2 linked regions of the Homo sapiens genome follow. The protein of the gene in region 1 purifies or fractionates together with the protein of each later gene. This does not show direct contact. Each region holds a gene or a part of one and is shown in the gene's direction. Other genes may lie near its edges.

Region 1 (2,807 bases):
TTAGTACTATTAATAATACCTTTTACACAAATATTTTTGACTTTAAAGCACTTTCATGTAAAAAGTAACTATGACTGTATAATTGCATAGAGCAGACTTAAGCTGTTTGACACCTATGTCTCTTTTGTGTCTTCTGTTTAAACTTGGGCCAATTCCTGGTGGATATTAGTTCATATTACAAAATTCTGATGTTCCAAAAAGTAGAATATATATAGAGATCAAACATTCAAAAGATACATTCTCTCCTAAGCTCAAAGGTTATATTTTTATTGGGTAGAACAGTATAGGTAAGTTGACATGAAATTGCATCCTGCACCATGACCACATTAGTAATATCAGAACTTTTGAGAAATACTGGATTTTGAATGGTTTGAGACTAATTCTTTAAAAATTAGGCTGAGCAACACTCACAATCCAAAAATATTCATATTAAGACTTACACATTTGAAGAATGGTACATTTTGTATAAAATCATATTTGATACCATTATTTCCACATACCTACTTTTCATCTGTTGCTTAATTTTTTCTTTTTAGAGTTCTTGCTCAACTTTATATGGAACAAGTCTTATTATTTTTGAAAGAGTGTTTAGTACCTTGTATTAAGAAACTTGGCCAAGCGTGGTGGTTCACTCCTGTAATCCCAGCACTTTGGGAGGTCGAGGCGGGCAGATTGCTTGAGGCCAGGAGATTGAGACCAGCCTGGGCAACATGGTGAAATCCTGTCTCTAAAATTTAAAAAAAAGAAGAAGAAGAAACTCGAGACTACATCTTCAAAAAACAACTTTGCAGTATTTGAATTTTACATTATACTGCCCTTCATTTCTGACAGCCAAATAACTTTATTGATATTTATTGCTTTTGTAGTTGTTATAACTAATAATTTCTTTGAAAATGTGTTGTAGTTTATGTTTTTCAAAGGGTTTTGGTAGTGTTTGTGATAGAATGGTTTTGCATATGATTATTATAGGGGATATATTTATAGAGCTCTACTTGTATACTTTGTGACTTACATTATGAAAACTTCAAAGTTCTCAATCCATACAGTTAGTATTTGTATCCAGAGTGTTTAAGAAAAAAATCTGTCTTATATTTTTAGTATATAGGAGCCAGTGTTGCTTCTATTTGTTTTGAATACAAATTCCAGTTTTCTTTGCATATTAGATCCCATATGTAAGAAACAACCTTAAACAATAATTTGTATGCTGGTAATATTTGGACAAGTGCCATAAATTAATGTATATTGTACTTTCTGAATAGATTTTCTCTAATCATAGCAAAATTTATTTCAAAACTACAACTCTTTGAATTATTCCGCTATAATAAAATTTAGTTATAAAATTATGTGGCACTACTGAAAATCTAAAGGATAATCTGAAGAATGAGTAAGACAGATATTGATAGAAATTTTTAGTATTTTCAGAATGTTTGGGTTCATACACATAAGTGAAATCATTTTAAAAACTAGGGGCTGGGCACAGTGGCTCACACCAGTAATCCTAGCACTTTGGGAGGCCAAGGCAGGAGGATTGCTTGAGCCCAGGAGTTTGAGACCAGCCTGGGCAACATAGCAAGACCCCTTTATCTATAAAAATAATAATAACTAGGTACCATTGTGAAAAATAATAACTAGGGATTGATTATAGTATCTTTACTCTGTATTCACAAATCTCTGTATTCCTGAACATATTTAATCCTTTGATTTACCTCTGACTAGGTTTGTCATTGTAATCCCTGGGCTGCTTAGGAGGATACCATTTGGTTTGATGAAAAAGCTGGAATGATAATAGCTCAAACTCTTTTGAGCATTTAGTACATGCTTGGCACTGTTCTATATGTCTTAAGTTATTCACTCTTGTATTTAACCATCAACACTCTTATGAGGTAAATATCCCGCAATTACTTTTGCGCCAACCTAGTACCACTACAGACAAGGAAACAGATGCAGAGAGGCTAAGTTACAAGGGCACACAGCCATAAACTTTGGATCTGTGGAGTGACTGGGCTTCAGAGTCCTCTTCCTGACTGCTGTTCCTATGTCTTTTGCAAAGAGAAGTCTTTGACAGGTATATGCTTTATTAAAATCATGTTTAGAAAGAAATGAGAGAATAGAATTAGAAAAAGGAATGACTGTAGGCTTCGATGAAAATGACTTTTGTGACTAGGTGAAAATTGTTTGGCTGGGTATCCTGGAAAATTGTCTTCTGGGAATATCTATATTCCAGGGTTCACTTTTGTCATAGAATTGTTTCTTGGCCCATTTAAGAGAGATACTTTGTTTATTAATAAATCAAACGTTTTAATTTTAGACATCTGTGATCAGTTCTTTTAAAGAGACTATATTTATTTAAGTACTTCCCAAGTTTAGTGCAGGGGTACTACCTACCATTTATTCAGGATCATAGAGGATAAGTTAGGGTCAAAGAAAATAGAGACTGCCATGACAGCGGCTTGCTTGCTTTCTCCCCAGGAATAATGCACAAATAATTTATAGCAGCTGATATTTTTCGGTGTTAACAGATAATAGGGGAATTTGCTGAAATTTTTATTTGGAGCCTCGGATTTAATTTTAGGCCACTGGGCTAATTTATTTTTAAATGTAAATTAATTCCAGTACTTTATTTGTAAAGTTTACTTGAGATCTAACTGTTCTAAGACATGCTGTTGCATTACAAATAAGAATTGCTGCATTTATTTTGATCCCATTGCCAGAGGCAAAATTAGTCAAAATTTAAAGGTATGTAGAAATACTTTTGTAATCCTTCTAAACTACATTAAATTTCTGGCTGACTGGTGGCTCACACCTGC
Region 2 (3,500 bases), on another chromosome or scaffold:
TGCAGCGAGGGGTTGGTTATAGATGGAGGCACCCGTGTAGCTTGGAGCTATGCTGCAACTGGTTTCCTGGAGAAGGTGGTTTGGAAAGTGGAACCTGAAAGATGGACAGGACTTGGGAAGTATGGAGGAGTAGGGCCAACATGAGGTTGAAGAGCCTGGGGTACATGTTGGGGTGAGTGGGACACGCCAGTGCCTGACACGTGCCTGCCGCCAGGTTTTAGGTACCTAATAAATCTTTGCTGAAAGGAAGGAAGGAGCAGGGCGGGAGAGGTCAGGCTCAGGTGGAGGCAGGAATGATACTCCAAATATTAATAACCATCCGGCATAGGGACTGACCAGTCAGAAAGGACACTGGATATAGACAGCCAGCACCGCTGTACCGGTGCATACCAGTGAAGGGATGGTGCAGAGGCCAGTATACCAGTGAAGGGATGGTGCAGAGGCCAGTTTGAGCAGAGCATGAACTTCCAGTTCCACCAGGGAACCAGCCCAGCCCGTCTGGACCATGGTGTGAAGCAGCAGAGGATCAGGCCCTAAGTCAGATACACTGTGCTCTGAGCCAGACAGTGTCACTGGGGGCTGCCTGGAAGAGGTGATGGGTTACCAGAAGAAGGCTCCTCTCTGTTTTGTAAAGTCAGGTCCATCTGGGGGACTAAGCAAGCAGGGATCACTGAACCCCTGTTCTGAAAAGAGGAGAGGGGTTTTGCCTTGCCTGGCCCAAGCCACATTGAGGGAGTGAAAGAGCTGTGGGCGGTAGGCCAGGCTGCGTGTCTGGGGTCTTGTCTGGGGCTGGGTACCCTGGGGCTTTGGGGTCCTTCTGAGGGATCCAGACTCTTCTGGGACCCAGCCACACCTAGGTGGAAAGAGGGGCTACGGATGCGCTCAGCATGGCTTCCAGCCACCTTTGTATACCTGGAGCTGGGCCGCTTCCACCACGGTTGCAAGGATGGAGGAAAAGCAGAAAGGACTGGGGAGACTGGTGGGGTGGAGGTTTCTTCCTTGGAGAGCTTGCAGAGATGCCACCTGCCAAAGCCTGGGGACCAAAGGAGGGGGTTCTTGTTTTAATTGTTCTTATAAAGGTAATACACACCAGAGAGAACATTCTAATAGTTCTAAAAGGTGTGTACAGTGAAAAGTCTCCAATTTACAGCATTTTGTTATAGAAAAAAAAAAAAAGTAACTCTCCATCCTTCCCACCCTTAAGTTTCCCCTCAGAGGCAGCCTTCATTATGAGTTCTTTTTTTTTTTGAGACGGGGTCTTGTACTGTCACCCGGGCTGGAGTGCAACGGTGCAATCTTGGCTGACTGCAACCTCCGCCTCCTGGGTTCATACGATTCTTCTGCCTCAGCCTCCCAAGTAGCTGGGATTACAGGCGCACACCATCACACCCGGCTAATATTTTGTATTTTTAGTAGAGATGGGGTTCACTATGTTGGCCGGAGTGGTCTTGAACTTCTGACCTCGTGATCCACCCACTTCGGAGTCCCAAAGTGCTGGGGTTACAGGTGTGAGCCACCGTGCCAGGCCCATTATGGGTTCTTACTATATTCTCCTTGGGTCGGGCCTGGTGGCTCACACCTGTAATCCTAGCACTTTGGGAGGCCAAGGCGGGTGGATCACGAGGTCAGGAGATTGAGACCATCCTGGCTAACACAGTGAAACCCCGTCTCTACTACAAATACAAAAAATTAGCCACGTGTGCTGGCGGGCGCCTGTAGTCCCAGCTACTAGGGAGGCTGAGGCAGTAGAATGACATGAACCCGGGAGGCAGAGGTTGCAGTGAGCTGAGATCGCACCACTGCACTCCAGCCTGGGTGACAGACAAGACTCTGTCTCAAAAAAAAAAAAAAGAAAAAATGTTCTCCTAGAGATGCTGTCTAGGAGATGTTATAACACATGTACAGGCATATGTTATATAGAACTATACACATTTACTCACATTCACGGCCTCTCTAATAGTTGTAGTTGCATATCTATTTTATTTATTTATTTTGAGACAAGAGTCACACTCTGTCGCCCAGGCTGGAGTGCAGTGGCACAATCTCAGCTCAGTGCAAACTCTGCCTCCCAGGTTCAAGTGATTCTCATGCCTCAGCCTCCCAAGTAGCTGGGATTACAGGCACCCACCACCACGCCGGGCTAATTTTTGTATTTTAGTAGAGACAGGGTTTCGCCATGTTGGCCAGGCTGGTCTCAAACTCCTGGCCTCAAATGATGCACTGGCCTTGGCCTCCTGAAGTGCTGGTATTACAGGTGTGAGCTACTGTGCTTGGCCTGCATACCTTATTTTAAAGCTTCCTTTATTTTTTTCACGGTGTCAGGGTATTCTATTGTGTAGATGTAGGATAATGTATTTAACCAGCTTCCCACTGATGGACATTCAGATTGTTTCCCATTCCTTGATACTACAAAAAAAGGCTACAATGCATAGTCTTACAAATGGGTGTTATCTGTAGAGCAGATTCCTAGAAATGGAGATTTTGGGTCAAATGGTAGCCATGTAAAATTTTAATCTAGGCCGGGTGCGGTGGCTCACGCCTGTAATCCCAGCACTTTGGGAGGCCGAGGCGGGCGGATCACGAGGTCAGGAGATCGAGACCATCCTGGCTAACAAGGTGAAACCCCATCTCTACTAAAATAGAAAAAATTAGCCGGGCGTGGTGGCGGGCACCTGTAGTCCCAGCTACTTGGGAGGCTGAGGCAGGAGAATGGCGTGAACCCGGGAGGCGGAGCTTGCAGTGAGCCGAGATCATGCCACTGCACTCCAGCCCAGGTGACAGAGCGAGACTCCGTCTCAAAAAAAAAAATTTTTTTTTTAATCTATATTGCCAAAGTGCCCTCTGAAGATTATAACCATACCAATTTATTTTACTTTTTTGAGATGGAGTCTTGCTGTGTTGCCCAGGCTGGAGTGCAGTGGTGCAATCTCGGCCCACTGCAAGCTCCGCCTCCCGGGTTCACGCCATTCTCCTGCCTCAGCCTCCCAAGTAGCTGGGACTACAGGCGCCCACCACCACTCCTGGCTAATTTTTTGAACCATACCAATTTATACTCCCAAGGGTAACATACAAGAGAGCCCATTTCCCCTCGCCCTTTCCCACATTCTGGCTTAGTAAGACTTTTCTCTTTGCCTGTGTGATTGGTGAGAAGGTGTCTTAAGGTAGTTCACTTTTACATTTTTCTCAAGGTGGTGAGGATGAACTCTTCTCATGTTTAAAAGCCATGTGGTCTAAAGCCAGAAGAGAGAACTGTTAGACTCATGGGGAAATGGGTTTGGTGTGAGTAGCTCCAACAGGGAATAGTTGGGTCTTAGAGGAAAAAACTACAGTTTGTCTTGGAGGGAGCCTCCTCTTGCTAAGACCCCCACCACCAGGGCTAAGGATTGCTTAAATCAGTGGTGTTCAAACCTGGTTCTGAGCTGCCTTCTCAGGGGCTGAGGATAGGGACAGGACCAGACCCTGGGGCTCTCACCCCCAGCCTGGGCCTGAGCAGCTTCTTG

The links. The genes of interacting proteins can lie anywhere in the genome.
Region 2: the proteins of SRSF12 (region 1) and KIF1C purify together in Homo sapiens (affinity purification with mass spectrometry, with the first as the bait; one large-scale study listed by BioGRID). This does not show direct contact.

What each region holds. Positions count from the first base shown.
Region 1 is NC_000006.12:89,095,459-89,098,265, reverse strand, and holds the end of SRSF12 (serine/arginine-rich splicing factor 12), read left to right. Parts: 3' UTR 1-2,307; downstream 2,308-2,807. UniProt on the Homo sapiens protein: Splicing factor that seems to antagonize SR proteins in pre-mRNA splicing regulation.
Region 2 is NC_000017.11:5,007,950-5,011,449, forward strand, and holds part of KIF1C (kinesin-like protein KIF1C), read left to right. Parts: intron 1-3,500. UniProt on the Homo sapiens protein: Motor required for the retrograde transport of Golgi vesicles to the endoplasmic reticulum. Has a microtubule plus end-directed motility.